Homo sapiens: one gene and its partners. The protein of the gene in region 1 purifies or fractionates together with the protein of each later gene. This does not show direct contact. Each region holds a gene or a part of one and is shown in the gene's direction. Other genes may lie near its edges. The genes, in order: TAS2R41, SYAP1, CBFB, THUMPD1, MECR, SEPHS1 and PAK1.

Region 1 (3,706 bases):
CCAGTAATTCCACTTTTAGGTGTATATGCAAAGGAAATGAAACTAGTATTTTGAAGAGATATCTGCACTCCCATGTTCATTGAAAATTATTCACAATAGCCAAGACATGGAAACAATCTAAAAGCCCATTAACAGATGAATGAACAAAGAAAATGTGGTGTGCATACACAATGGAATATGATTCAGTCTTAGAAAAGGCGATTCTGCCATTTGCAACAACGTAGATGGAACTGGAGGACATTATGCTATGTGAAATGCTCCAGAGACAGAAATACATATATTGTACGATCTCACTTACATGTGGAATCTGAAAAAACAAACCCACAGAAGTAGAGAGTAGATTGGTGGTTGCCAGGGTTCTGGAAGGGGAAATGGGGAGATATTGGTCAAGGGGTATGAAGTTTCAGTTATGCTAAGTGAACATGCTTTGGAAACCTAAGGTATGGTAGTATGAGTATAGTAAACAATACTGCACTGTATACTTGAACTTTCATGAGAGGGTAGATCTTAAGTGTTCTCACTACACATGAAGAAATTGAAAACAGGAATTATGTGAGGTGATAGATATATTTTAAAAGAAAATATTTTTACTTTCAACATGGTCTCATAGGGACTTCTTTTTGATGTTGGTGTTAGACAGGACTCACATATGCCTCGGGTATCTCAGGGTGGCAGACAGACTGTAAAGTGGCCCTGCCTGTCCCTCAACCCTGGTGTTGGGCCTTTGTGTAACCTCCTTCTTTTGAGTGTTGTTGGTGACAGTGACTTGCTTCTAGCCAATAGACTATGGCAAAGGTGATAGGCTGTCACTCCAATGATTGTGTTATGTTATTTAAGACCCCATCTTGTTAGCAGACTCCCTTTAGAGACTGCTGACTTGACGTGAGTGGCCATGCTGAAACAGCTTACCTGGCAGAGACTGTGAGAGGCCTCTAGGACCAGAGAGCAGTCTCCCACCAACACCCAGGAAGAAACAGGGGCTCTCAGTCCTGCTTCGGAAGGCCCCTCAACCACATGATAATGAATTCTCTCACTGGAAATACAAAACCCGTTTACACCATTATCATTTACATCTCAGGATTCATGGAGGATCTAAGTAGAGATCTGGATGGAGAGGTAGACGAAGTGTTTGATTTTGAAGCGATTTGTGGGCAAAGGCAGTAAGGTAAGCATGGATGTGTAACAGGGAAGTACTGAGACAGAATTCTTTGATGTCACTATTTTTCCTGTGTATCTCCTATACTTGTCTCTATATTTAAAGTCTTAAGAATGTTCTGATGGGAAGAGGAGTGTTCATACGGCCTGAGGATGGAACTCAGTCACAGAGACCCAGAAAAATCATAGACATTGATACTAACCATGGCAGCATGCAGGAAAACTGGACAAGGCAAATTAGGGTAATTTGCAGGCCTAGTGGTAACTGACACTAGGATAAATTTGCATCCTGTCTGAGCCAAGAGCACACCTCTCCTCTTTAGCCTGAGCATCCTCCTCTCTAAGTGAGCTCTGGTTCAGATGCAGAGCCTGACCACTCTTTAGCACTCCTAGGAAAGATTAAAAACAGGACTGTGGCTAGGGGCAGGGAGGAGGCCAGGGACCAAGGCACTCAAGTGGGGACTGCAGGAGGGGTCAGAATGCAAGCAGCACTGACGGCCTTCTTCGTGTTGCTCTTTAGCCTGCTGAGTCTTCTGGGGATTGCAGCGAATGGCTTCATTGTGCTGGTGCTGGGCAGGGAGTGGCTGCGATATGGCAGGTTGCTGCCCTTGGATATGATCCTCATTAGCTTGGGTGCCTCCCGCTTCTGCCTGCAGTTGGTTGGGACGGTGCACAACTTCTACTACTCTGCCCAGAAGGTCGAGTACTCTGGGGGTCTCGGCCGACAGTTCTTCCATCTACACTGGCACTTCCTGAACTCAGCCACCTTCTGGTTTTGCAGCTGGCTCAGTGTCCTGTTCTGTGTGAAGATTGCTAACATCACACACTCCACCTTCCTGTGGCTGAAGTGGAGGTTCCCAGGGTGGGTGCCCTGGCTCCTGTTGGGCTCTGTCCTGATCTCCTTCATCATAACCCTGCTGTTTTTTTGGGTGAACTACCCTGTATATCAAGAATTTTTAATTAGAAAATTTTCTGGGAACATGACCTACAAGTGGAATACAAGGATAGAAACATACTATTTCCCATCCCTGAAACTGGTCATCTGGTCAATTCCTTTTTCTGTTTTTCTGGTCTCAATTATGCTGTTAATTAATTCTCTGAGGAGGCATACTCAGAGAATGCAGCACAACGGGCACAGCCTGCAGGACCCCAGCACCCAGGCTCACACCAGAGCTCTGAAGTCCCTCATCTCCTTCCTCATTCTTTATGCTCTGTCCTTTCTGTCCCTGATCATTGATGCCGCAAAATTTATCTCCATGCAGAACGACTTTTACTGGCCATGGCAAATTGCAGTCTACCTGTGCATATCTGTCCATCCCTTCATCCTCATCTTCAGCAACCTCAAGCTTCGAAGCGTGTTCTCGCAGCTCCTGTTGTTGGCAAGGGGCTTCTGGGTGGCCTAGATGGCATGGTTTCCTTATCTAGACCCCCGGAAAAGAAAGGTGAGGATGGCAGAGCTGTGGCCCACTGACATGGAGGTGTTTTCATAGGTAGATGAATACTGGGTACTGTTATGGGGCTCCTCCTCTGGGAAGCGGAGGAGACAAGGAAATCTGGGAACTCTCTGAGCATGCTTCCCTTCTTTGGAATGTTATAAAGATGCAGTCCCATGGATCCCAGAGAGCCAGTATTGCCCAGAAGTTCAGAATATGTTAATATGATGTCGTGCTACTCCTTACGTTTGTACCCCTTTGTTATCTGGAAGGCTTCGATTAAAAGTGTTGATTAACTGTGCCATCGCATCTCCACTGCCTTTCAGAAAGTTAAGAGCAAATATTTGCCTCTATGGCTGAACTGAGATGTGGATAGTGAAGCGACAGCCTTCTTGAGGACAAATGTCATGGTTACTACGAGAGCCCCAAGGGACAGGCAGTTGTGGCAGGCAGTGGCCTGGGCTGTGAGTTCTGATTGCCCTTTACTGCATGAAGATACTTTGTCTCCACACAAACTTGGATAATCTGGTTTTAATTTTATTAAGTTTACTGGAAGGTTTCTTTACACCACCCAGTTTCTTTTCTCATTAACATTTCTGACTTCAATTTTCTCTTCTCTGAAGTCTGAGTAGTAGCCAGACTTTTTTCTTGTTTATCATTCCTTTAGAAAAAGACACATTGTGACTTTCTTGTCTTCCTCAAGCATATGTCACAGAGTCACATCTGCATTGAATAAACATGTACTTTTCAATCTGAAAAACAGACTCAGGAATTTCACTGGACTGGGAGTGGTGACGTCCGTAATCCCAACACTTTGGGAAGCTGAGTCAGGCAGACTGCTCGAGCTCAGGAGTTCAAGAGCAGCCTGGGCAAGATAGCGAGACCTCCTCTCCACTAAAAATTCAAAAAAATCAGCCAGGTGTGGTGGTGTGCACCTGTGGTCCCAGCTACTCGTGAGTCTGAGGTGGGAGGATCACTTGAGCTCAGGAGATAGAGGCTGCGGTGAGCTGTGATCACTGTACTCCAGCCTGGGCAACAGAGTGAGACCGTCTTAAAAAAAATTCATTAGTTTGTATCTAAAAACTACTTAAATATTGTTTTAAAAAGAACCACCCTGT
Region 2 (4,628 bases), on another chromosome or scaffold:
GAAGTATATTGTCTTTAAGAAGACCCATTTATGTTTTGAAAACTGGAATTAAACATCTGTGAGCCTGACTCCCAGAGTAGATTCATTTCTTAAGTCTTTTGAAATCTACATAAAATATCAGCCGGGTGCGGTGGCTCACGCCTATAATCCCAGCAGCTTTGGGAGGCCAAGGCAGGCAGATCACGAGGTCAGGAGATCGAGACCAGCCTGACCAACGTGGTGAAACCCTGTCCCTACTAAAAATACAAAAATTAGCTGGGCGTGGTGGTGCGCGCCTATAATCCCAGCTACTCAAGAGGCTGAGGCGGGAGAATCGCTTGAACCCGGGAGGCGGAGGTTGCAGTGAGCCGAGATCGCGCCACTGCACTCCAGTGTAGGTGACAAAGTGAGACTGCATCTCACAAAAAAAAAAAAAAAAATCTCCTGGGAGCCCCATTTGTTCTGCATATATTTGTTGAGTGCCTACCTTCAAGACTGGACACTAAATACTTCCTGGTTCCTGGTGACCTATTTATACATTCAGGCAACTCACCAGTTAGTGGTGGACACCCAGGCCTGCATTCCACTCCCTCACTCAAAACCAAACCTCCTGGTCTCCTGATTCTTGGCCCTCCCTCCTGATAAATTTACAACCTCCGATTGTCACTGTCTCCAAAGGAAGGAACAATTTATAGGAGAACTCACTTAAGAGCTCCTCCCTACCTCCCTCAAGGCCCCATGCCGTTAAGTTGGTTAGTTGGTTTTTGTTAAAGTCAACCAAATTAAAGCTTTGCCTCTACTCTTTCTGAAAAAAATAAATAAATAAAAAGAAAATCTGTACTTCTGAGAATGTTAAATATCTGAATCAGTCACACAGTTTACATCAGTGGGAGGATGGCCAAAGATGAGCTTTGTGATCTTTAGCTTTTTCTAAACCGCCCCTAAAACTATTCCATGCCTAGGAATGGGGAAAGGGCCACCTCCTCCTCCTTTGAAAAGTGCTATTAGTATTGCAGTGGACCTGTGTTAGACTGTCCTCCTTTTCTTCTGTAGGGAAAGTATATTTCAAGTTCCAGCTGCCTAACTTGCAAACTAAGAGGACTCCTAAAGTTAGAGTGTACAGAGGTGACTATGTACCTGCTTTGATGTGGGAGTAAAATATCTAATTGAGTTCTGATAACACACCCAGGTTTACAATGCACAGTCAATAGCTTGGATCCTAGGGCTTATGAACAATACTTTTTAAAATTGGGGATCTCGATTTGAAGAAGAAACTTAGGGACATTGCAGAAAATCTGAAAGGTCTTTTGCAGAAAAGAAGTCGTAGATGTTCCTTATGAGGATAGACCTGAGGCTGTGGGGTAGAAATGACTAGAGAAGTGAGAAGAATTTTCTGATTAGAGTTGAGTAACAGTAATTACTGGCTGCCCTTCTAAGTCCTGTGCTCCCTACCCCTGGAAGTGGGGCTACCTGGATAGGAAGGTCCATTCCCACACTAAGATGCTGAAATTCTAAAATTGTATGAAATATAGTATCTTTGAAAAATTAACCAACTACTTTATAAGAATATTAATTTCCTAAGACTTTGCCACTGTATGCTTATTCTCTTCCTATTCTTGCGGCAGGCCTTAAACTCTACCTTGCTCTGTGTTTACTTTAACAAATTTATGTTTTTTCTGACCTTTGAAGCTCTTCCTACTTTACTTTATTCTTACCATTCCTTTCAGTTCTTCAAGCCCTTGTCAACTTGCTCAACTGACCTGAGGCAGCGTGGGATTGGAGCATGAGCTTGGGATTTAGAGGCAGATAGCCTGTGTTTGAGTTCCCTACACTACTTACTGTCTTTATTGTTATATCATTTGCAAATTACAGAAAGTCCAGTGATCAGAGGCTTAATGAAAGAAACTTTATTTTTGTGTCAGGGAGTCCCCAAGAACCATCCCCAGGTTTGATGATTGGCTAGGAAGACTTATGGGACTCAGCATATAGTTGTATTCATGGCCGTGATGTATTGCAATGAAAGAGTACAAGAATAAAATCAGGAAAGGAAAAAGGCACATGGGGTGGAAGTCCAGGGGTAAGCAGGCACAGTAGAGTCACACAGGACGTGCTTAATTCCTCTAGCAAGGAGTTGTGACAACACGTGTGAGATGCTGTCTTCCAGGGAAGCTCATTAGAGACTCAGTGCCCAGGACTTTTACTGGGGACTGGTCGTATAGGTATCCTCTGCCTACCACATATCCAAATTCCAGACCCCACAAGGAAAGCGGGAGTTCAGCATAAACCACAATGAGGCATTCTTAGCAGTTTAAGAAATGGTGGGAGCCCTCCCGAAATCTAAGTTCCCGGACACCCAGCCAGTGGCCAACCTTGAAAGCAAGCCTTTCCAAGGACAGCAGTCTCAGGCCTGCCATGTTAATGCTTTTCTGCAGAGTCTCCAAGAAATGTGGGGATGGGAGGGAGGTCCCAGGGTCAGTTCCATGGCTCAACGATATGATCAGGGAACCAATCTCTTCCACGCTTCCTCTCCTTCATCCATAGTGAGTTGGTTTCCATCCTCAGGCTGATCACTTCAGGCTCACAAGACAGCAACTGCAGTAGAAAGGGAGGACGAGGACTCTCCCCATAGCTCCCTTTTTATTAAGAAAGAAAATGTTTCTGGATGCCGACTTGCAGGTGTCCCCTTAAATTTCTTGGGGTGGAGCTGTCACATGGCTTTTCTAAGCTTCACGGGACTCTCAGCAAGTATGTGGCAGAGATCCTGACAGAGGTAGTGCCATTACCTTCTTTGGTGTGGACTTGTCAAGATTCATTCTCTGGGGCTGGCCACATGGGCACGCATCAAAATTGGGGTGGTTTTAACAAGGCAGAAGAGATGGGCTACTGGCTGGGCAGCCAGCAAGATCTGCCCCTATCACATAGGACAAATCATTTTTCCTCTGTGAGCCTCAGCTTCCCTTTTTTTGAACTGGGCAGATTATTCCTTCTCCTTGTCCCAGGAAGGTTATGAGAATAAAACATGGCATAATTAAAATGAAGGTAAAATAACTACTTTAAATGTTAGCTGTCGGCCCCCACCTTCCAGCAGGTCGCTAAGTCGTATTCAGATACATTTGAATTTGACTTCCTTTTCTTTGGCGCTACTTCGTTTCAGACCCTCACTTTATGGACTGAAGTGGACATTGTACTCCTGTTACTTCCTGTTAACTCCTATCTTAGTTTCAGTTTTTTCCTAGACAGTTCATAAAAACTGTCTTTGGCCAGGTGCGGTGGCTTACAGTTGTCATCCCAAAACTTTGGGAGGCCAAGGCGGGTGGGTTGCTTGAGCCCAGGAGTTTGAGACCAGCCTGGACAACATAGTGAGACTCCATCTCTATAAAAAATAAAAATCAAAATAAAAACTGTCTTCAACGTGGTGTCAGCTGATCTCTTTGCAAAATTAATAAATCACTTCTTGTCTTTATGGACTTCTTCCCTGAAAATCTCTTGTCATGCTCTCCATCTCACTCCCAGGCCACTCTAATAACTCTCTGGAGACAGTTCTCCCTCCATGCTGCCACATCTGCTTAATGAATAATCTTGTTCCTCTTTTTGTCTTTGATTCTCTATTTATTTGTTTTGCTTTAGAGATGGACGTTCCTGGAGGGCAAGAACTTGTGCTTTCTCAGATATTCAGTGTGTTCAGTAAACTCCATCCATGGAGTCATTAAAATCTAAGGAATGCAATGATTATGCTAAAATACCAGTTTTTAAATGACAGTTCTCCCTTGGAATAAAAATCATTGTTTGAATTCAAAATATGTTTCTGAGGAAGGGATAAAAGGAATTTATTTCCAAAAGAACCCTCTTCTTTTGGAACTTTAGATTTGTTTCTCTGACTGCAAAGCATGGTTTTGTTCCTGGACCAAACTGAGGGTCAGGCTGCTATTTCTCGTGGCCCAATAACAAGATGCAGGTCAACTGGGAAGGAAGAGAGTTTTTATTTCTGTAAGTGGCTCCAGGGAGAAGGCCTGGAAATTATCACCAGACCAACGCAAAATTAGAAAGTTTTCCAGAGCTTATATACCTTCTAAGCTATACGTCTACGTGTTAAGTGTGCACTCATCTAAAGACATAAGTGATTAACTTCTTTTAATCTATAACTAAGGTCTGAGTCCTGAAGACCTTCCTCTGGAGCCTCAGTAAATTTACTTAATCTAACTGGGTCCAGGTGCTGAGGTGATTACCCTTATCTTGTCTCCTGCTAAATCATGGAGGTTTGGGGAGTTCCTTCAGACCCCCAATCAACTTGTTTGTGGAGGCCTGGGGAGTCTCTTCAGACCCCCCAGTAAAACTTACTTAATCGTGCTTTAAGGTTCAGGAAAGTCCTAGGCAAAACTCTTGGGCTTTTGTTACATCCCAGCCTTTGTATAAGGTCACTGGCTTTTAATATTTAACTTAACCACTCAGTCAGTACTGAAACAGTTGTGATGGAAGCCTATGTTAGTGAGTCCTGGCCTGCCGCAATCCCCACTGTCAATTTGCGCATGATTTCTATCATGCTTGTATATTTATTTATCATGAGAATCGTAGGGAGATGGGGCATCATAATCTTTCTGGCTACTTTTTGCTTAGAGGGGCTCATCATTATGGGGCACTGAATGCAGCAC
Region 3 (4,628 bases), on another chromosome or scaffold:
TCTCGCCTTGTTGTCCAGGCTGGAGCACAGTGGTGCAATCTCGGCTGACTGCATGCAACCTCTGCCTCCCAGGTTCAAGTGATTCTCCTGCCTCATCCTCCCAAGTAGCTGGGATTACAGGCGTCTGCCACCATGCCCAGCTAATTTTTTGTATTTTTAGTAGAGACAGGGTTTCACCATGTTGGCCAGGCTGGTCTTGTACTCCTGACCTCAGATGGTCTACCTGCCTTGCCTCCCAAAGGGCTGGGATTACGAGTGTGAACCACTGCTCCTGGCCTGAAAGATTTTTTAAAATGATGTTGTAATATTGATGTTAGTTCAGTTTCTATGGATATAAAACATTTACCACATGAAAATGGTACCCCAGTTGATTAGGGAAATGCCATCAGAGAGGTTTAGAGATTTAGCATTTAGGTTGACAAGTGTACCGACAGTGCCAGTAATAGAAATAGGAAGTATAATTTTTACCTCTAAAGAATCTAAGCTGTTAACCATCAGGGGAACTATTGGATAGCTAACTTGGTTGATGGCTTTAAACAAATTGCCCCAAATGTGAACCTCTTGATTTGAGATGAAGACTCTATGCATGGAAACCAATTATGCTTCAGAACTTAATTAGTAGAATAAACCAAACAAAAAACTTTTTCTGGTTTCAGCAAAGAAGAGTTTACATTTAGATGATGAAAAATGTATTTTTTCAAAAATGCTTTTACTTCTTTTTTTCTTAATTTCCTTTGGGAAAGGGGTAATGTCTTTGTTTTTTGCCTGAGGGAAATATAGAGGTAACTTGCTCAAGGCCTACATAAAATGACACTTTATTGAAGTGGTTTTAGATTGTTGCATCTGTTGAGCTCTAACATCCAAATCTTTTATATTTATAAATCTAATCTATAAATATTTATTAGATGAATACTTTTCTCTTTGTTGTAGTCAGACCAAGTTCTCCTAAAGTCAAATGTGAGAAAAGACATATTTTTAAAAATCATCTAGGGTTTTAGAGAGTACTGTCACATCCCATGCCAATGTATGGTTTATCAGAGGAGAGACAATTCCAAGTGCATTTTTTATGTACTGCCTGCTATGCAGTGTTTCAGCAAGGGAAATCAAGGAAAATTAAAGTGTCTCATTTATACAATTTTAAATTGTGGTATTCTTTAAAATTCAAAATCTTTAGATTTTGAGTGATTTTTACATTTAAAAATAGAAGTTTTTAAATGCAGAGATGGATAGTGGCTTCTGGTTAGACATTAGCAGTGTGAGATCCTAACGTCAGCAAAAAATGACCTGAAAGAAAGTATTGATTCCATGTCTGATTTTATACTTAAGCAGCCAATGGCAAATGTCCTCAAAATGGAATCAGATGTTTGTAACTTAATACTTAAGAAAAATGATGAGTGCATGTTTTTTTTTACTTTTAAGTATTCTCTGTGCTGCCTGGCTTAAGACATAAACTGATGTAAAAATAAATGACTGCTTGCATAATTTATGTAATGTCCTGCTCCTGATCCTGTTTGTATTGATTTTTCTAAAAGGCTTTTGTGGCCACAGGAACCAATCTGTCTCTCCAGTTTTTTCCGGCCAGCTGGCAGGGAGAACAGCGACAAACACCTAGCCGAGAGTATGTCGACTTAGAAAGAGAAGCAGGCAAGGTAGGAAACATTTCTTTGCAATTTAAAATACTGTGGGTTGTTTTGTTAGAGATTATCTGGTAATTTACATTTTAATAAAGATCACAGATCTGATTATACCAGCATATGCTCAGATTTGTTTTCATTCCATGTTATAAGGATGTAATATAATTTTTTTTTTTTAATGGCGTTTCGCTCTTGTTGCCCAGGCTGGAGTGCAGTGGCGTGATGTTGGTTCACTGCAATCTCCGCCTTCCAGTTTCAAGCGATTCTCCTGCCTCAGCCTCCTGAGTAGCTGGGATTACAGGTACCCGCCACCACATCTGACTAATTTTTGTATTTTTAGTGGAGATGGGGTTTCACCATGTTGGCCAGGCTGGTCTCGAACTCCTGACCTTGTGATCCGCCCACCTCTGCCTCCCAAAGTGTTGGGATTACAGGCGTGAGCCACTGTGCCCGGCCAATATAATTTTTTAAAACCACTGTTAAACTTTTGTATCACTCCATTCCTAATTTCATGTACATAATATTTGTCATAGAACATTCTAACCCTTAAGGAAAGTAACATAACAATTTCTTTAAAAGTTTGAGGAGATATATTTTGTTTACAAAAATATATGTAAGTATAGTGCTATAAAAATAAAACAAGAGGAAAACGGAAAAAAGCTCTCTAGGTTTAAAAATTAATAGTATTTAGAAATAGCTCATAGGTAACTTTCTAATTCCATTAACAGCAAATTTACATTTGAGAAAAACAATGTGAAAACTTTAACTTGGAAATACTTTTTTTTTGTTTTGAGAAAAAGTTTCTGGGAACATGTCTTACAGTTTCGATGTTAGAAGTTTAGGTTAAAGATACAAAAATATAGGTAAAATGTTTAAGCTGAGAGCCTTATTTCAGGTCTACGTTAAATGTATTATGATTTTGGTAATTTTTTTTTTTTTTTTTTTGAGATGGAGTCTCCCTCTGTTGCCCAGGCTGGAGTGCAGTGGTGTGATCTTGGCTCACAGCAACCTCCACCTCCTGGGTTTTAAGCTATTCTCCTGCCTCAGCCTCCTGAGTAGCTGGGATTACAGGTGTGCGCCACCACGCCTGGCTAATTTTTTTGTATTTTTAGTAGAGACAGGGTTTCCCCATATTGGTCAGGCTGGTCTTGAACTCCTGACCATGTGATCCACCTGCCTCTGCCTCCCAAAGTGGTGGGATTATAGGAGTGAGCTACTGCACCTGGCCTGGTAAATTTTAATGAATAGCATCTTGGATTGGTTGATTCTTGATTGAGAAGTCAAGGAGTTGACTTCTAGAATAAAATTTTTAAAGAAGAAACCCTCTTTTAAATATAGTTTTATACTCAAAACACCCTTTTGGATCCAGTTTCATACTTTTTTTGTGTGTGTTTGTTTTGCAGTGTGTTTTTGTACCCGTTTCTATCAACTTACTAAATTAATTTTCTAAGTGTCATCATGAATAGCATAACCTGCCACATTTATGTAAAATGTGAGAAATGTCTAAATATTCCTTTGAGAAATATTTAATTTAATCTTGTGTGTATATATATATATACACGTATATATGTGTATATATACGTATATGTGTGTGTATATATGTATATATGTGTGTGTATATACGTATATGTGTGTATGTATATACATATATATGTATATATAAAATGAATTTTTTGTTTTCTCCAATTCTGTAGAATTAGATTTGATCTTTTGTGCGTGACAAAACAATCTTTGGATTAGAAAAGGGAAAACAGATTATAAGATTTAAAAAAATGAGTACTAAGCAAGCAGTTTGCTTTCCTGTGTATTAGCTTGTTTGCTTGGAAAATTAAAAGTGAATGTTCCAGATTTTACTATTTGGTAATTCTTACACAATATATAAGGAAGAATTTGAGAAGTCCTTGTACGATTATTGGTTTTTTTGTGCTTCTGGTGCGTGTATGTGTGACTAAATGAAGAAATTATTTTTTTTCTTGTTTGAATACTTCCTTAAAGTTTGTTTAACATGGTAGCTCAGATACTAAAGACGTAAACCAAAAAAAAAAAAAATTTGTTTTTTGTCAGCTTTAGCCCAAAACTATTTTAAGACTTCAAGGGCAACATCTCAGTGTTACTGAAGTCTTCCGGTATTTAATAACTAGTAAATGGGTTGTTAACTCTACCAGAAATTAAGTTTGCTTGAATTAATTTAATGATACTGCTTCACTAGTGTGAAGACCACATAATCCTTGGACTTAAACCATTGAGATGTTTTTAGTTATATGACCAAAAATAACAAAAATGTGAGATGGTTTATTCTAGTACAGTCATGTGTCACTTAATGGTAGGGATATGTTCTGGGAAATGTGTTGCTGGGTGATTTTTATCATTGTGTATATATAGAGTGTACTTACACAGATCTAGATGGTATAGCCTACTACACACTTAGGCTATCTGGTATAGTCTGTTGCTCCTAGGCTACAAACCTGTACTGTACAGCATGTTACCGTACTGAATACTGTAGTCAACTGTAACACAATTTGGTAAGTATTTGTGTATCTTGATGTATCTAAACATAGAAAAGATATGGTAAAAATACAGTATTTAAAAAATGGTATACCTGTATAGGGCACTTACTTTGAATGGAGCTTGCAGGACTGGAAGTTGCTCTGGGTCAGTCAGTTGAGTAAGTGGTGAATGAATGTGATTCTGTAGATTATATAAACATAGTATGCTTAGGCCGCACTAAATCTATAAAAATTAAGCAATTGCACTGCAATGTTAAAATGGCTATGATGTCACTAGGCAATAGGAATTTTTCAGATTCATTATAATCTTACAAGACCACTGTCATATATGTGATCCATTTTAGGCTGTAACGTTGTTAAAGCAATACATGAATGTATTAAAAAGATATGTTTTTAATTCTATTAGGAAGAGTGATAGAACTATGCAGGCTATCAGGAAATGTACATTTTATTAATACTGGTTTTAGAAGTTTTTTTTTCTGTGAAG
Region 4 (3,956 bases), on another chromosome or scaffold:
GTTTTCATTCTAAGGAAGGAGTTTTTACATGCCACAGCTCAGCTGTCTGCCTGCCACTTTGTTGTAAACATTGCAAAAATGTGGATCATGTAGGTTAGAAGTGAATTGTTTAGTGAAGTTTTTGTACTTTTGTGATTTTCTTGTTTATGTCTGTTTTTTTTTTTTTTTTTTAACATTTGTGTGTAATATAGCTGACAGTCCAGTGTCGCAATTTTGGAAGGCAAGATGTGAGAGAGACGAGAACCATTTTAGGCATAGAACTACAGACATTTCTGAAAAGGTTGGTGATGAAGAACTTCAGTCTTCTGAGTATACTTCAGTATACTAGTGCAACAAGGGACACAAAGAAATTCTGTCTTAATAAAGAAAGCTACTTCTCAAGGGTATTATGTGGACTCAGTCCAAGCTCTCCTGTCCCATTGTGCATTGTCTGTGACATGCAACTTACAAAACTAGCAATTGTAACAATAAATCACAGCCACTTGACAAGAAAGGATATTCATTATTTTCAAATGGCTTTTGGACTATCAAAAACAGTAAGGCTTTTGTTCAGAAATCACCTTTAGTCAAAAGGTTTAAGAAGCAAATTATTTAGTAGCAGAACTTATCTCAGGAAAGGAAAATATGCATGGTTGGTGAGAATCTAATAACATTAAAATGCTGGGGCAAGATGCAGTACAAAGTTGAAGAGACTTTATTCTCAATAAGTTGATTTACTGATGATATGTCATATGATGCAAAAAAGGTTTTGTGTCATTAACTGAAAAGTAGCAGCTTCTCTATCCAGGATGATGAGTCAACAGGTTTCACTAATATTTGTCATGCTGTAGCATTTGTAAGATTTGTAAATGATGAAATTCAAAGAAAACTTTTTCTATTGCTAGGAGCCTGCCAGAACAAAGGCCAATATATAATGTTGTGACATCATATCTGATAACCAGAGGTCTGGTATCTACACTCCTGGTGCCCCATCAGTGGTTGTCTCCATAAGTCATTTTGCGTTATTAAAAAAAAAAAAAGAAATCCTGATGTTGACATTATAGCACACTGCTTTCTCCACAGAGATGCTGATATCAAAAACTTGAAGATACAGTGAAGTTCTGAATAATGTTACAAAACTGGTTACCTGTATCAAAGACCCATTTATGCAAAAATGTTAAAAAAAAAAAAAAACACCCAAAACAAAAACCTGGACAGACAGCACATAAACCTCCTGCACCATACAGACATCCAGTGGCTTCTCAGAGGAAGCGTTCTCTACAGGATATTTGAATTGAAAGGTGAATTGCCAGAGTACTTACAATAAAACAGCCAGCTTTTGCTGAGTGCTTTGGAAATGAAAAATGACTACAGAAAGTAGCCTATTTTGCAGACGTTTTTCATCACATGAACAAATGGACAAGTCTCTGAAAGGTTCTGGGGAAAAAAATTTTTCTTAAAGCGACAAGACTCTTAGATCTAAAAGGAAACTGACTTGCCACCTTGCCAGAGGAATTCTTGAAATGTTTCTGCAGCCACTTGGCCTTGAAAATAAAGGGTGCAACTCTCAAATCTTGTTCTAACCCGGCTGGAGGAACCACAAGACCCAATGAAATAGCATTTTCTCTCCTTTTCCCAGCACTAGTATATAACCTATGAGGAACCCTTGTCTCTGAATCTGCTCAGCTTGAAATTTTGTCTCTGAAGGAAGAGAATGAACTCAGCCCTAGTCTGACAGTCCTAGATTTCTGTGAAATAAGAGTATTCTTCAACTTAGTGCTCACACTCACATACCATGAGGGTTCTCTGCAGGGGTTTAGGGGTTTCCTGAATTTGAAAGTTTTTTCAAGGCCTCTTTTTGGGTAAAACAATTGAAAAGGCAGACACCAACAAAGTCTGCAAAATTAACTGTCCAGATTAAGAATATTAAGGAGCTGTAAAATTAGCTTGTAGAAATGGACTTATCCTTAAGTTTTAAAAAGTTAGGAAATCCTAAAAATGTTAGGCTTCCTGCACAAGTGGCTATGTTCATTTAATGGCTAGTGAACATGGGAATGTATTTTTATCCTCCTAGCTGGTGGTTCTGTTTGGTAAACCAGACTAGAATGATTTGAGAGGGGCAAAGAGAATAGGCAGGACCTTCCTTCTATAGCTTTACATATTTAGAATGTTAATACTTAATGACATTGAAGTTACCTTGCAATGATTGATAAGAGGATTATTAATATCAGTTAGGGGAATAGGGAGGATAGGATTTTGGTGCCTTCTTCAGCAGACTTGCTCCAAGACAAAGATTCTATTTTGATAGTGCAAGACAAAAGGACTCGGAAGAAAATTGGCCATATGCCTACAGAGCATACAACTCTGTGGAACTAAATTGTTTTTACTTTGTGAAAGCTGCTATTTTACGGAAAGATTTTGATTATACAGTTTGTTTTTAAATTGTCTTTTATATTTATTTGTATTTGGTAAGAATCGGTTGTTACACAAGCTGTTCTTTCCCAGTTACAAAATCCTGTGTTCGGTTGTAACCTGAACTCATTAAAAGACTTGTTTTCAGGTTTATCAACTGTTTATTTTCACTGACATTTGAGCATGTTATTTTATAAATGACGGGATTCCAGGGTAGGAAGTGCTTTTTATTCCCCTTTTGTTTTTTCTTTTAAAAAATTACGTCAGTTAAAAAAATAAAAAAACTGCAGTCTTATGGTTTAGAAAACTTGTTTAGCTCCATAGAGGAAAGAATGTTAAACTTTGTATTTTAAAACATGATTCTCTGAGGTTAAACTTGGTTTTCAAATGTTATTTTTACTTGTATTTTGCTTTTGGTACGGCCAGAAATCGAGCTTGTTTTTTCATAGTTCCTGATATTTTCAGAAAAATCAAAATAAATTTGTTCCCTAAAAATTGGTGTTCTAATATTTTTTCTTTCTTTCTGACTCTTAGTAAATCTCTTGCTTTATAGTATATATATATCATAAAATATGTTTATATGTCAAATTATAAAATGCCATGGACATGAGCCTAAAAAACATTAAAAAATTATTACCCTTGAATAATTAATACTTCTAAATCCAAGTTTCAGATATTTTACAGTTAATTTGCTTCAAAATGAGCCATAGTAATACAGTACTTACTTTCATTAAATTCACTTACTGATTTTTGAATTATTTATACTCATTTTAACAGTATTTTAATATATTGAAGTTTGGTCTCATAAAGTTGTTAAGTAGAAGAAATTGTCTTGAACATTTAGGATATATCTTTATTTTGAATTAATCAGGCACAAGATAGATGAAATACAGATTCATTGTGCACTTTCTTTTTCTAAGTAATCATTTGACTCCTGCAATTTTAAACACTAGAAACCATCATTACCTTTGTCAGTTTGGTTATTGAAACAATTTTCATCCATATATTTTTAGACTTTTATTTACTTTTTAATTTTTTAGCTAAGTAGAAAACAAAAACTTAAACCAGGAAGGATCTTAAACATTTTAAGAGAGTAGTCACTGAATTATCAGGAACAAATCGAGAAAGCAATCATATTACTACTTAACCCTTCAGCTTTTTTATCAAGCTATGTTCGTCCCTATTCTTGGTCTCTTAAAACGTGTTTGATTCTCCCAATGATTGTCTTTGGGAGTTCTTGAACAAATTCCACCTAATTGACGGAAAAACGTTATGAGACATTTGATTCCGTTTTTCCAATTGTCAGTGCAATAGGAGAGAGCTTGCATGAAACTCTGAGACTGAATTTTAAAGTCTAGATTATCTTAGCCTAAGCTTATTGAATCTCATAGACACCAGAAACTGTTCTGTTTGTACAGGAAGGGTGACAGTGTAGCTCCATCTTGGGGGTTTTTAGTGCAAATTCACTTAAATGCTTTGCCACAAGAAAGTAATAATCCCTTTACCCCATTGCTTTCCCCTAGTTCAAACTAGTCCTAGGTCTCTACTGTTCTAGAAAGTGGAGA
Region 5 (5,256 bases), on another chromosome or scaffold:
AAATGCAGTGTGGGAGTCAGAGTGCAAAGAATCTTGAATGCAAGTCCAGGAAATTGGACTTGAACCCCTCAGTCAGTAGTTCTCAAACTATGCCCCTGCAAGAACCCAGATGGCCTAGACTAAAAGTGAGGGCTATTGGGATGCACAGGAGGCTAAAGTCCAGCCCCAAGGAGGAGGACTTGCTGGATGATTCTTCAGGCTTCCTGACTGGGCTCCCCAGAAATTCAGAGGAGCCAATTTGGTGAAGAAGAGAATGTCGACATCTCAATGTCACCTAGGGAGTCTTACAACAGAAGGTTACGTTGTACTTCCCAGTTCAAGTAAGCCTATGTGTCACTGGGGAAAAGGGTAAGCAGGACTGGTCATCGTGTGTGTGCTGGCACATAAATGTGGGGCCAAGCCTTTCCCCCACCATGGGACACCAACTTTCTCTAATAATAAAAACAAGTACAGACATTTAGTGAGCACATACTATAAGCCAGACCCTAGTCTGAGGGTTTTATGTGTGATATTTCTCATTTAATCACAATAACCCCCGATAATATTTATCAAATGCTTCCATGTGCCAAGCATTGTACTAAATGCTTCAAGTGGATAATATCTCACTTGACCCTCACAACAATCTTGAAACAGATAACTAGTATTCCTTCCATTTTAAGAGTAAGAAAGTGAAGACACAGAGAGGCCTGGTGACTTGTCCGAAATCAAATGGCTGGAAAATGGCAGAGCTAGGACATAAAGCCAGGTTTGTCCAAATCTAGCTCACAGTACTTTGCTGTGCTCTCTTCCTCAGAGGAAAGGCTTGGAGATGGCAAGCTTCAAGTCAATAAAATCCAGGAAAGGAACTCTTCCTTATCCTTCAAAGCCCTGGCTCAGTATCTTAAAACCTGTTTCCTGGGACACCTGCATCAGAATATTCTTGGGAGCTTGTAAGGATGTAGATTCCTGGAACCCCCATCCGCAAGATTCTAATTCAGTAGGTCTAAGATGGGACCTCGGATTATTTTTATGCACACAGAAGATTTTGAATCACAGGGCTGGCTCTAACAGCACCTCCTCCAAGAGCCCCCACCCCATCCCACCCCATCCCAGAGCACTTCTCTTCAGACTACAGCATTGCACTCTGGCACGAGCCACAGCTCGATCTGGGGTTTTAGTAATGTTCATGTCTTCCCTACACCAAAAATCAGACTAGATCCTTCATAGGGCTACACCTTTTTACAGGCATTTCCAGTGTTCCACTTAATCCCTTTCTACACTGTGAGCATTTTGAGAGAGGACCCTTCTCCTTGTGATTCCTGTCTTACATCTGAACAGAGTTTTTTACAATGCGTTCTCCCACCCACAATAGCATTCCTCTATTATTTCATCCAATCCTCACAACAATCCGGAAGGAGGCATATTATCCCCATTGTACCGATGAGAAAAATTCAGAGTTTCACCTGCCCAAGGTGGCCAAGCTAGGAAGTGGCAGGGCTAGGATTTGAACCTAAGTTTTCTAACTCCAAGCCCCATACTCCTGCCTCCACAGCAGCTTTCGTGTACTCTCCTCAGTGTAGGGAAGTAAGCTTTGCCTCCCTATGCCGTTACATGGTAGTGGTGATTAAATGAGATAATACCTTAAAGAGCCTGGCTCGGTGAGCACTCAATATATTATGTGAAGGGTAAACTGAGGCCAGGGAGAGTAAATATTTCCTCCAAATCAAACACCAAACTGCAGGCTGTAGACACGACTTTGGACTAGCCCCAGACTCTCCTTGTTGAGACAACAGCTTTGGCGGCCTCGCAAGCTCCGCACCCCCGGATCCCTCCGGGGCCCACACGCAGTCTAGCCAGGCGCCACCACTTGGGCAGCGAAGGAAGGAAACGCCCTTCAAAGGGACCAAGGGGGAGTGGTCACCCGGCGGGGCAGGGGCGGGGCGCAGGCGCGCGGTCGCTGGAAGATGACGTAGCCGGGGCGTCAGGCTCTGTGTTGGTTGGAGCGAGCATGTGGGTCTGCAGTACCCTGTGGCGGGTGCGAACCCCCGCCCGGCAGTGGCGGGGGCTGCTCCCAGCTTCTGGCTGTCACGGACCTGCCGCCTCCTCCTACTCCGCATCCGCCGAGCCTGCCCGGGTCCGGGCGCTTGTCTATGGGCACCACGGGGATCCAGCCAAGGTCGTCGAGTAAGAGACGGCGCCGAAGCCGGGGAAGGGGACTGGGGTTTCTGGAAGGCTTTAACACGAGCTGCGGACTGGGAAGAGAGGGACAGGGTCCGAGGAAGGGGGCAGAGAATAGCAAACCGAAGCCGAAGCCCAGGGCGTTTTTGGTAGGTCAGAAAGACCGTACTTGAAGGTAGCTGAAGACCCGAGAGGCAATTATCAGGGTATTAATGGCTGATGTTTATTGATCGAATATTGTGTCAGGCAATCCCTTGTTTAAATGGATGCTCTCATTTAATTGTCACAACAATGTTTTGGGGTAGTTATTGATTTATCCCCATTTTGCAGATGAAAACTGAGGCAGAAGAGGTAAAATCACTCGTCCAAGGTCACACAGCCAGTAAGTGACAGGGTCAGAATTCCAACCTATGTCTGACTGACCTGCGTGAGTTCTTACTATTATTATTATTATTTGGAAGAAGTTTTCAGAATACTTTTACATCCATTTGGATCTTCATGTGTCAGTAAAGAGTAGGTCATAGATCATTGTTTCCAGAGGGCAAGGGACTTGCCCAGAGTGATACCGCTAATAAGTGATTGGAACAGGAGACTGGAATCCATGGCTTCTGATTCCAAACTCATGTTTCTCTCCACTGCACCGTATATGCATCTTGGCTTGGTTAAAAAGAGCTGCTTTGGTGCCATACAGACCCAAGTATCTATATTTGGTCAAATACAGGCTCAACGTCTTAGTAGCTGTTTGGTCTTAGAGAAGTCATTCAACTTCTCGTTACTTTTATGACTTTGTCCTCCTCCTAAAATTCTGTTGGATCTTAATTCATGCTTTTTGCACGTGGTTGATAAAAATAGTATGTCAGTTGCCAACCATTGTAAATCTGCACATAAATAGCCATTCAGAAGGGCTATTGGGGCCACTGAAGTGGAGCTAAAGCAAAAGCACAGGTCTGGGAATCAAAATACTTGGGGTCAAATCCTTGTCCTAGCTTTGCATTTGGCAAGTTACTGAGGTTCTCTGAGCCTCGGTTTCATCATCTTAAAAAATGGAGACAGTACAGACAAAGTTCATAGTGGTAATCACCTAAGATCTATGTAGTGCTCTCCACCAAAAAACACCTGCATACTCTTGTGCAGTACCTTCTTTTTAACTCTTTGATTCCCAGCAAATAGTTTGATTATTTTCCAAAGGATGGGCAAATGTGGTATTACTTTAATGGTTAAAATTCAGGCTAGAGCTGGGCACGGTGGCTCACGCCTGTAATCCCAGCATTAGGGAGACTGAGGCGGGTGGATCACCTGAGGTCACGAGTTCTAGACCAGCCTGGCCAACGTGGCGAAACCCCATCTCTACTAAAAATACAAAAAAATTAGCCGGGCTTGGTGGTGGGCACCTGTAATCCCTGCTACTCAGGAGGCTGAGGCAGGAGAACCGCTTGAACCCAGGAGGCGGAGGTTGCAGTGAGTCGAGATTGCGCCACTGCACTCCAGCCTGGGCAACAGAGCGAGACTCTGTCTCAAAAAAAAAAAAAAATCAAGCTAGATGTTTTGACAGGTGGTGAGGATAAGCCTCAGATAAATTCAAGGTCATCCAATCAGCCTAGCCACATCCCGCATTATAGAAACGAAAAGAATGTCAAGAAGACACATCAGTCAGTAAACTCCAAATTGTATGTTGATCGTAGGTAATAAAGCATTGTGTCAGGGAAGACATCTCACTAAGGACTGCGTTGTAAGGAACTGGTACAGCTCTGATGAACACTCCTCCATTTCCAGGAATGTACCCCAAATGAGAACCATGTAGTGTCTCTCCCACGGACTTGTAGTTTGTGTCTGCAGCAGGACCTGCCACAAAACAGGTGCTCCTAAAATGTTAGTTCAATCTAAATCTAAATTTCCAAAAAAAGTGAACCTTTTATTAAGTTCTGCTGTGGTGATGAGGAAGGCCTGGGAAAGTTCAGCTGAATGCAGTTGCCTCCTAATTGATTCCCTCCTCTTGGAGAGCCAGAGAAGCTGGAACAGACCGGTCTGTTTGCAGATGCCACTTAGGAAAAAAAAAAGCTTCTATTATGTCCTTCTGTGGAACTTCAGTAATTTCCCTCTAGTTCAAAACATGATACTTCCAACCGGGCGCGATGGCTCATGCCTGTAATCCCTGCACTTTGGGAGGCTAACATGGGCAGATCATGGCGAAACCCTGTCTCTACTAAAAATACAAAAATTAGCTGGGCATGGGGGTGCAAGCCTGTAGTTCCAGCTACTCGGGAGGCTGAGGCAGGAGAATTGCCTGAACTGGGAGGCAGAGGTTGCAGTGAGCCGAGATCGCGCCATTGAACTTTAGCCTGGGTAACAGAGCAAGACTTCCTCTCAAAAAAAAAAAAAAAAAGATACTTCCACAAAGCATTATATTCAACTTTGGCTTCACAGCACAGTCACCATTTGTAGTGCTTTTATTTTTTGTATTTGCCCACATAAAATATCAGACAGCTTTTATTTTATATATATATTTATTTATTTATTTATTTATTTTGAGATGAGATCATGCCATGTTGCCCAGGCTGGTCTTGAACTCCTGGGCTCAAGGGATCCTCCCACCTCAGCCTCCTGAGTAGCAGGGATTGCAGGTGTGTACCACCACACCCAGCTTGACCTGTAGTGCTTTTAGAAACTACCGTATGTATTCCTAGGCCCCACTCCTGAGGTACTTAGTAGGTCTAGGATGGCTTGGAGCTTCTGTTTTTTTCAAAGCTCTCCAGGTGACTCTGCTGCCCAGGCCAGGCTTGAGAACCACTGCCTTGTGGATACAGATTGTCAGACAAGCAGTAATTCTCTCCGTGCTCCAGAAGGGCAACTTTACTTTCTGACCCAGATTCAGGCGGCTTTACTTGTTCTCGTATGGACTGAAGCCAGAGACTGGGATTCTCTTTGTAGTCATGTCTTACAAGGTTTAGGGTAACCACACTGTCACAGAAAGAATCAGGTGTCCTTTACACATCCTGGTAACTGGCTGTCTGGGTCAGGTTACACCAGGTAGGGGTCATGGGACTACCTAGAGTCTGAACAGAGCATTGTCAGAACTAGTGTGGTTTGTGATGCTTGCGC
Region 6 (4,628 bases), on another chromosome or scaffold:
GAATGGATACTTGTGTCATTCCTTTGAGGCACGGTGGGCTTTCCTTGGTTCAAACCACAGATTACATTTACCCGATCGTAGACGACCCTTACATGATGGTAAGCGTGAGCCGATGTGTTTTTGTGACTGGAAGGGCTTATTTGTTTGGTTTGGGTTGTGGCTGGGGTTTTGTATGTATCTGTGGGGTTTTGGTTTTATTTCTGTTATATCCCGACTATACTGCCCCACCCTGCCCAGACTCCTGCAGTTGCTGAAGTCAGGCCTGTCCCCTGCCCACACTTGGCACTGGGCATAAAGCAATTAGGGAGGAAGCAGGGAAGGCCCTCTGCTGCTGTTGCAACTGAGTACATGCTGTGAGTAAGAACACCTCTTGTTTAGTAGCATGTCAATGGCCTGTTTTTGTCATTTTCTTCTTTCTTGCACCTTCTCTTCTTTGACATTGGTAACCTCCATCACCCCTGTGTTTTAGGCTGGAGATGTTACTGTCCTCTGTAATAGGACTGATCCTAAATGTTTCCTTCAAGAGATTAAGGAGCTAGTATCTCATCACAATTAGATGCCTCAAACATTAATTCGGATATCTGGTTAATTCACTCAACCCAGCCACTTGCACACCCACCACCGTGTGATGTGCCGCTGTACATAGTAGGTTTCTGACCACTGAGTTAAAGTTCCTGGCTACTGATGATACACTGCTGAGGTGTGTTCCCCAGTTGTTTACTGCGTAGTTGCAGCCAGCCACCCTTTGATCCACCCAACCTTTAACCCCAATTTGCTACCACCCAGGAGGAGCCAGTGGAGAGACTAGGAAAATCTGGTTTGCTATAAAATGCCAGGTGTTCTTCGTGTGTGGCAAGGACAGTGGGATCAGGCTGCACTGTAGGGACTTTATCATGAGGCAGCCACGTGGGGGGTGTTCACCCTCAGGTACCAGTGACAAATACCAGATTATTGGAAACCTATATTTCTTCCGCACATCTGTCCGTTTTCTCCTCTGGAGCAATACTCTTGAGACTGGGCAGGTAAGCCACAGCCCAGGTCCCACATGACCAGGTGGCAGGGATGGCTAAAACCACAGTCCATTGTTTTCCAGCATCTCCTAAAATGAGAGCACCCAGAACAGAAGGGGCGCTAAATCACCACCCCCCTAACTAGCGATTGGCTTGTGCGAGTTGTAGACCACCTGTTGGCCTTGTGGACTGGCTTGATGATACTGAAAGTGTGGCCACAGATGGTTGTTGAGCTGCATTGCTGACCTCCAGGAATGTATAAGAAAGCCTAAAGCAAGCAATTAAACAGCCACTGGAAGTGATAACACTTGGGAGTTTGATTATCCTTATGTCAGAAGGAAAATTTGTATTTTCTCTTTATTGTCTATAAAAGATAAAAATTTAGATAAGGGCAACTTAACTTTTAAAAATCTCCAGTGGCAATAAAAAAATCTTCATTACCACATTTCTGTTGAATTGTATTTTAAAGTTCCTAATAAAATGACATCATTTACTGGGAAATGCTTCTTTTTCTTTTGAAAACAATATGACTTCAGCCCTGGGTATTTTTTTATTTGTTTCTTAAGATGATTTTTCTGTTTATCTCATACATCCTTGAAAAGAAGCTACAAAAATTTTTTTTGTTTTTTTTTTGTTGTTGTTTATTGACAGTCTTGCTCTGTTGCCCAGGCTAGAGTGCAGTGGCACGATCTCAGCTTACTGCAACCTCCACCTCCCAGGTTCAAGCAATTCTCATGCCTCAGGCTCCCAAGTAGCTGAGACTACAGGTGTGCACCACCATGCCCAGCTAATTTTTATATTTTTAGTAGAAACAGCATTTTACCATGTTGGCCAGGCTGGTCTTTAACTCCTGGCCTCAAGTGATCCACCTGATTCGGCCTCTCAAATTGCTGGGATTACAGGCGTGAGCTATCACACCCAGCCTAAGCTGCAAACATTTCTTAATCCAAGTGCACAAAGACTATCTCCATCTCTATAACCACTAAAGCCAGCCATTTTTAGAATCTGTTTGGGATATGTGGCTGTTTCCAACTTTTCTTTAGGAGAGTTGTTTGCAGGCTTTTTCGCTCCATAGCTCTTCCCCCAAGACTGTCGGTTCTAAACTTGCTTCTCCTCCTCATTCGCTGCACATATACCCCTTCCCCTATCTAAATAAATTGCAGACTTCTAAAATTTAGAATGGAGAAAAACTGGTACATTCTTTGTCCTGCACAAGAAAGAGGTGGTAACAGGAATGTCTGAGAAAAAACGAATGGCCTAGTGACTCTGTGATGCAGGAAAGGTTGCCAGTCTGCAAATCATAGAAACTGAGGACCCCATCCTAGTAGCTGCTACTCCTGGAAAGTCTCCACGTTCTCTGTGGAGTCCACTCCATGGCTCACTCAGTTTCTGCAGATGGAAAGTCCCCGGTCGTCCTTTCTCATGTTTCCCTCTCTTCCCAGGGCAGGATAGCGTGTGCCAATGTCCTCAGTGACCTCTATGCAATGGGGGTCACGGAATGTGACAATATGCTGATGCTCCTTGGAGTCAGTAATAAAATGACCGACAGGGTAAGTAGGAGCTACCCGGCTGCTGCCTGGTCCGTGTTGTCCCGGTGGCATCTCTGGCCTTGGTTAGACTTGGTTTCCCATCTAGAAAGCGAGGAGCCCAGGCCATATGGCTCCCTGCACTCCTTCTGGCTCTCCACTTTTTGGCAGTTACCAGTAAATTAAAATGAGGAAGCCTGGCCTAGTCATCTCTGCACTTCTGCCACCTGCTCCCTTTCTCTCTTCCCAGTAGACTGAAACCAAGACTTTTTTTTTTTTTTTTTTTGAGACAGGAGTCTCACTCTGTCGCCCAGGCTGGAGTGTAGTGGCGCAATCTCAGTCCACTGCAACCTCCGCCTCCCGGGTTCAAACAATTCTCCTGCCTCAGCCTCCCAAGTAGCTGGGATTACAGGCACGTACCACCACACCTGGCTATTTTGTGTATTTTTATTAGAGACGGGGTTTTATCACGTTGGCCAGGCTGTTCCTGAACTCCTGACCTCAGGTAATCCACCTATCTCGGCATCCCAAAGTGCTGGGATTGCAGGCGTGAAACACCGTGCCCGGCCCAAGGCATTTGTGTATATTTTTTTTTGTTTTATTGAGACAGAGTCTCACTCTGTCACCCAGGCTAGAGTGTAGTGGCACAAGCTCAGCTCACTGCAACCTCCACCTCCCAGGTTCAAGCGATTCTCCTGCCTCAGCCTCCCAAGTAGCTGGGATTACAGGGGCACACCAGCACCCCCAGCTAATTTTTATATTTTCAGTAGAGATGGGGTTTCACCATGTTGGTCAGGCTGGTCTCGAACTCCTGAGCTCGTGATCCACCCACTTCGGCCTCCCAAAGTGCTGGGATTATAGGCATGAGCCACCGTGCCCGACCTGTGCATTTTTTAAAATAAAGTTTTGGCCATAGTAATGGTGCCTCAGTGTGAATCAGGCACAGCCTTACAGATGTGGGACACGTGGCACTTAGAGGGCACTCCCTCTGCTGTGGCTGGGGATGTCGTGGACGTAGATGGTGACGGGGGATAGGGCCACCAGGGGCTCACGCCTCTGTGTCATCGCCTAGCATTCTGTGCCCTTGCTGCCTGAACCTGTTCTTTGAACCAGAGATGAATTCCTATTTAGATAGACAGGTACTTGTTTTTGTCCCAAGAGCCCCCAACAGTTTGCCCTGCCTTAGAGAAACTTGAGTTTCCAGTAGGCTCTTTCCTGCCCTTGAACATGGGCTGTAGTCATCAGTGGTGCATGGTGGTCTTGGCGCAGGCTCTGTCAGTGTGGGTTACTCGTAGCCTGCAGCCAAGCCTTGGTAGGATGGATGCCTACTGCAGGGCAGGGGACCTGTGCTTAGGAAGCCAGTCTTGAGATTCTCAAGGAGCACTGGACAGCTGGCTTCCAGCAGTCATCAGACCTAGGGCTGGTCCTGTGCACTGAGTCCAGACAATGTTGGTGTCTGGGCTTTATTTACATTGTTGTCTAGAACATCTTCCAGCATTGGATAAAATGATGACAATGTGAAATATTTTCTAGCTTTTGTTTTTGTTTGTTTTTGAGACAAGATCTCCCTGTGTTGCCCAGGTTGGAGTGCAGTGGTGTGATGAGAGCTCACTGCAGCAGCCTCAGCCTCCCGGGCTCAAGACATCCTCCCACTTCAGCCTCCGGAATAGCTGGGACCACAGGCACATGCCACCACACCAAGCAATATTTTTTTTTTTTGTTTTTGAGATGAAGTCTCACTCTTGTGCCCAGGGCTGGAGTGCAGTGATGCGATCTTGGCTAACTACAACCTCTGCCTCCCAGGTTCAAGCGATTCTCCTGCCTCAGCCTCCCAAGTAGCTGGGATTACAGGCGCATGCTACCACACCCGGCTAATTTTTGTATTTTTAGTAGAGACGGGGTTTCACCATGTTGGCCAGGCTGGTCTCAAACTCCTGACCTCAGGTGATCTGCCCGCCTCAGCCTCCCAAAGTGCTGGGAATACAGGCATGAGCCACTGTGCCCGGTCACCCAGCAATTTTTACATGTTTCGTAGAGAAAGGGGTCTGTCTGCATTGCCCAGACTGGTCTTAAACTCCTGGGCTCAAGCTCT
Region 7 (4,628 bases), on another chromosome or scaffold:
AGGCACTCAAGTATTTGTTGAATGAATAATGTAAGATGATTTAATTCTATGTATTGCCAGCTGCGACATTGGGGTTTTACTCAAGAACCGTTCTCAGAATGAATAGGAATCATGGTCCAATGTGCAAATCCAAGGGGATCCTAACATTTTTGGGGGATTCATTTTAGGTTGAGCTTTTCCCTTTATGTGTCTCCAACCAAAGCCTGCAAGAATTTTTAGCCTAGTCTTTTGTTCGTTTGTTTGTTTTAACCACCACCTGAAAACTGCTGTTGCAATATTCCAAGCCAGGATTGTTTCTTTTGAATTTGCAAGTTGGTTTTGCAAGTCTAAATAAGCACTCTTAACTTTTGAGTCTTTTAACTTAAAACTGTCTCTTCCTGGTCTCCTGTGGTTTTTGTCTTTCTCTGGTGATACTTAAAGCTATATAGGGCCTGTTTGACTCCACACAAAGGTTTCTCTTCCTTGTCAAGCTCTTAAAATGCTTTGTTTCTTTCACTTTCTTATTAGCCCTAAGATACCATGCCCAGTTTTCTCCTTTCCTAGCTTCCTTCTGGGAGAGTGGCTTCAATTATTCATCCGTTTACTATAAAATTATGAGTCCTTCTCCACCATGTGCCAGACCCTGTGCTGGGCAGGATGTTCAGCTATATACAAGAGTGCAGCCCAAGTCTTTAAGGAGCTAGAGATAATATGACATGATAAGTGCTGAAATGAAGAGATGAAATAGAGGGATGAAAAAAGGTGGTATATGATCATAAAGGGGGGGAGAAAGCTGCCTTTCTATTTGTTTCCCTCAGTTTAGGAATAATTTGTCAAACAAGCATCATTTTGACAGGCAGACTTTTAAAAAATTTTAAGAGGTCATGGGCTTTGTTGGGGAAAACTAAAACAAAAATCAAGGTGGAATCAGCAGTTGCCAATTTGAGACATTAATTCTGTTGTTGCTGGTTTTAATGAATTTTCTGATCCCTCTCCATGTTATTTTTCTAAATAATAACCAGAAAGTGGGAGAAAAATATTTCTTTTTGGCATAGTAAAGAGACAAGTTTAAGGTTATCAAAAGAATACATCTCACTACAGTTTATTGTTTATTTTTGAAAAGCGATAAACAATATGCATCTAAAAACGAGGCTTTTGACTGTTTATGATAAAGAAATGATAAATGTTTGGAGTGATGAATATGCTAATTATCCTGATTTGATTATTACGAATTATATACATCTCAAAATATCATAAATATGTACAATTATTACATATCAACTAAAAATAAAAGGAAAAATGCATTGATTCAAAATTAATAGTCAGTATATTCAAACTTGAAAATAAAAAATTTAAAAACATTCTCCCACACCAGTGTTTGCTCCTTCTGGGTCATTTTCTATGCCCATTATTAAAAAAAAAAAAAAAGTCTCTTCACAGATGTTTTAATTTCTAAGGGGTAATGTTGTAATTTGTAGTGGGTGAAAATGAAACCCTGGAAAAGTTAGGAGACCTTCTTTAGTGTCTATGTTACTGCATGACCTTGTAGAAGTAATTTTTATCTCTGTGTTTTGTCCCAACTGTAAAATGGGGATAGTAATAGTTGCTACGACTAGTTTACAGGATCATGAAGCAATTAAAATAATGACTATAAAGGAATCTTTGAAAAGTATAATTTGCTTGTTAGTTGTTAGGTGGTGGTAAGCTTACTAAAAATGGCTTATGTTACTGAATACCTGTTCTGTACCAGGCCCTATATGAGATGTTTAACATGTTCTTTTTAACCCTCAGAATAACCTTATGAGATGATTGCTGGTATCTCTGTATCATAGGTGAGGAAACCTGAGAGTCATACTAGTAAAGGGAGCTTATTTAAGGTTTTGCTGCAAGTAAGTGGCAGACCAACAATTCTAGTCCATGTGCACCTGACTCCAGCAGCTATGTGCTATTTTCAGTACAGAGGCTGCTTTTAATGTTTCTGCACAGAGGATATAGGAATGTTTTGCAAGTAAATATATTGCAGTGAGAGTTAAAGTTTCCATTTGGTATGTTTTTTTTGTGTGTGTATTAGAAGGCTTGGTGAAGACAGATTTACATTCGTTTACATTTATCATTCATACAGGAAAAATAACATCTTTCCTGGATGTTATTTTGTTCAATCTTCGTAACAGCCCTATGAGATAGGTATTCCCATTTTACGAGTTAGCAGGCTGAGGATCATATTAATAGAAGTCTTGGCTTGCTCAGAGGCACATCATTAATGAATGCCTGAATATTGATTTTAAACCACATTTTAAAATTCTAAGTGTAGTACTTTACTTTGCCACTATAACATATTGCCTTTTAAACTCTATCAAACTAAATTTTGGGGCACTAGACACATTCTTTTAAATTGGTTCCTAATCTCTTTAGCTTCTTCTCCCTAAGAAAACCCTGACTGAAGTCCACAGTTTGAACTAGAAAGGATAATTGCTGATAAAACTCTATGTCAGATGGTCATGATGTTGCAGACTTAGAAGATAATACCTCTTTACTGAAGCTGCCAGATCAGGCTTTATCCAGTATTTGGAATCACTTGTGCCTGAATATTTCCCTGTGCCATCGTAAATTTATTAACTTAATGTGCTACATTTTTCTACCCTTTTTGTAAGCCTTTTCTTTCATGAATATCTTCCTCTTCTCTCCCATTCTTTTAGTTTTTGAGATGGGGAAAGTCATGTATATGCTAGGCTTCTCCGGATTATCCCTTCTTGAGGAATAGTGTAGTAGTAAGTCTAGAAAGAACCAGAGGTTCATTCATCCCTCATGAGTTTTCGTGGTATTGATTGACTGTAGAATTCATCTAATTCTTAAGTCCATTATGTCTTGGCTTTTGTTCCTGGAGTCAGAGTTAGGTAATTTGCATGCAGGATTGGGAAATCCATTCTTGTTTATGGGCTGCTTTCTTTTATTACTTTTCTACTTCCAGCCTTCTCCAATATCCCTTTCCCTTTCAGACTGTTAAGTACTAACTGAGGCTGGCAAGAGCATTTTCTAATTTATAGAATCTGCCTTTTGAATCTTTTGGGATGGCAAATGACAATGACAGTATATGCATGGCTTCCACCCTCATCTGCCTGCCTATATCTTTAAGGTCCAGCTTTCCTTATTTCCTCCTGGATTCCCACAAAGCTAAGATTGATGTCTTCCTCACTGGTGGAACCCTTGATTTGTGTATTACTGCACTTACCAAGGGAGGGTTTAAGGAAGAGCACAAAATTTGAAGTTAGACAAAGAGCTACTTGGACACTTATTTAAATCTCTATTTGTTCATTTGAAAGAAATAATACCTAACTTACAGAATTCTTGTGAAGATTAATAATATATGTAAAAGTGAATTGTAAGATACTGAGCTATATAGATGTTAGGTAGAGTAGTTTGTAATTTTATGACTATGATTGTGTGTAGCAGTGGTTTTAATTTCGGCTATGCACTTGAATTACTTGTGAAGATGTAAAGAGTTGCCTTGGCATCTCTATTTTGAAAGGTTTATAGGTGATTCTGATATGCAAAGTTGAGAAGCACTGCCTTATATTAACAATGTTTTGCATAAATGTCTTATGTAAGTATTATATGAAAAGTAATATTTTATTGCCATTTAAAGTTCATTCATTTGCTAAATACATATTATGCATCAGGCATTGTCATAGGTTCTGAATAAACAGATGAATCATAGCCTCTACCCTTGGGTTTATAGTTTCCGGGAGAAACAGACATGTGCATAGACAATTACACTACATTGAGACAAAAAATGACAAAAATATGGAGATAAGTGCAAGTGCCATGTGAACACAGAGGAAGGGCATCTGCTGCACTTGAAATGGGGGTGGCCTGGCAAGCATTCTTAAAGGAGGTGACATCTAAGATGGGTTCTGAAAAATGATCAGGGGTTAACGAAGCACAGTCAGGGAGGGGTGAGAAGAAAGGGGAGATGATGGACCCTCTTGAAAGAGAGAGCAATATGTGAGCAGAAGATTTGAGAGCCTGTTTGGGGAGCCCTGTGTAGTTTAGTATGCTTAGAAGATAGGGTGTAAAGTGGGGAGGCGTGAGAGCAGAGAGGAGGCAGGGCCCAGATGATGAAGGGCCTTTTGTATAATGTACAAAATACTTTTACTGATATTATCTGACTTTATTCTTTGGACAATCCCCTGGGTTAGCTAGGACAGGTGTTGTTTTATATTCATTTGATAGAAGAAAACACAAAGAGGTTAATTGACTTGCTGAGGCTATACAGCACAGCTAAGATCTGAAGCCAGGTTCTTATGATTGTTTAGTTCATCATGCTTTTTCTATTACACCATAGCCGTCTTAGACTTTTGCGGTGTGGTAGGGAATCAGGTAAGCTCTGTGGATATATGCACAACAATTTGGAAGCTGTAATGTGCTAGACTGATGTTGGCTAACTCATTTTACAGATGAGGAAATTTAGGAGCAGAGACATCAAGCTGTCATTTGAAGACTTTTTTTTTTTTTTGAGATGGAGTCTTGCTCTGTCGCCCAGGCTGGAGTGCAGTGATGCGATGTCGGCTCACCGCAAGCTCTGCCTCCCGGGTTCACGCCATTCCCCTGCCTCAGCCTCCCAAGTAGCTGGGACCACAGGTGCGTGCCAC

The links.
Region 2: the proteins of TAS2R41 (region 1) and SYAP1 purify together in Homo sapiens (affinity purification with mass spectrometry; 2 studies listed by BioGRID and IntAct, with this or other methods). This does not show direct contact.
Region 3: the proteins of TAS2R41 (region 1) and CBFB purify together in Homo sapiens (affinity purification with mass spectrometry; 2 studies listed by BioGRID and IntAct, with this or other methods). This does not show direct contact.
Region 4: the proteins of TAS2R41 (region 1) and THUMPD1 purify together in Homo sapiens (affinity purification with mass spectrometry; 2 studies listed by BioGRID and IntAct, with this or other methods). This does not show direct contact.
Region 5: the proteins of TAS2R41 (region 1) and MECR purify together in Homo sapiens (affinity purification with mass spectrometry; one large-scale study listed by BioGRID and IntAct). This does not show direct contact.
Region 6: the proteins of TAS2R41 (region 1) and SEPHS1 purify together in Homo sapiens (affinity purification with mass spectrometry, with the first as the bait; one large-scale study listed by BioGRID). This does not show direct contact.
Region 7: the proteins of TAS2R41 (region 1) and PAK1 purify together in Homo sapiens (affinity purification with mass spectrometry; 2 studies listed by BioGRID and IntAct, with this or other methods). This does not show direct contact.

Annotation. Positions count from the first base shown.
Region 1 is NC_000007.14:143,476,239-143,479,944, forward strand, and holds TAS2R41 (taste receptor type 2 member 41), read left to right. Parts: upstream 1-1,634; coding exon 1,635-2,558; downstream 2,559-3,706.
Region 2 is NC_000023.11:16,722,128-16,726,755, forward strand, and holds part of SYAP1 (synapse-associated protein 1), read left to right. Parts: intron 1-4,628.
Region 3 is NC_000016.10:67,035,107-67,039,734, forward strand, and holds part of CBFB (core-binding factor subunit beta), read left to right. Parts: intron 1-1,532; coding exon 1,533-1,649; intron 1,650-4,628. UniProt on the Homo sapiens protein: Forms the heterodimeric complex core-binding factor (CBF) with RUNX family proteins (RUNX1, RUNX2, and RUNX3).
Region 4 is NC_000016.10:20,732,594-20,736,549, reverse strand, and holds the end of THUMPD1 (THUMP domain-containing protein 1), read left to right. Parts: 3' UTR 1-2,886; downstream 2,887-3,956. UniProt on the Homo sapiens protein: Functions as a tRNA-binding adapter to mediate NAT10-dependent tRNA acetylation modifying cytidine to N4-acetylcytidine (ac4C).
Region 5 is NC_000001.11:29,227,638-29,232,893, reverse strand, and holds the start of MECR (enoyl-[acyl-carrier-protein] reductase, mitochondrial), read left to right. Parts: upstream 1-1,959; 5' UTR 1,960-1,987; coding exon 1,988-2,163; intron 2,164-5,256. UniProt on the Homo sapiens protein: Catalyzes the NADPH-dependent reduction of trans-2-enoyl thioesters in mitochondrial fatty acid synthesis (fatty acid synthesis type II).
Region 6 is NC_000010.11:13,334,175-13,338,802, reverse strand, and holds part of SEPHS1 (selenide, water dikinase 1), read left to right. Parts: coding exon 1-98; intron 99-2,452; coding exon 2,453-2,560; intron 2,561-4,628. UniProt on the Homo sapiens protein: Synthesizes selenophosphate from selenide and ATP.
Region 7 is NC_000011.10:77,466,467-77,471,094, reverse strand, and holds part of PAK1 (serine/threonine-protein kinase PAK 1), read left to right. Parts: intron 1-4,628. UniProt on the Homo sapiens protein: Protein kinase involved in intracellular signaling pathways downstream of integrins and receptor-type kinases that plays an important role in cytoskeleton dynamics, in cell adhesion, migration, proliferation, apoptosis, mitosis, and in vesicle-mediated transport processes.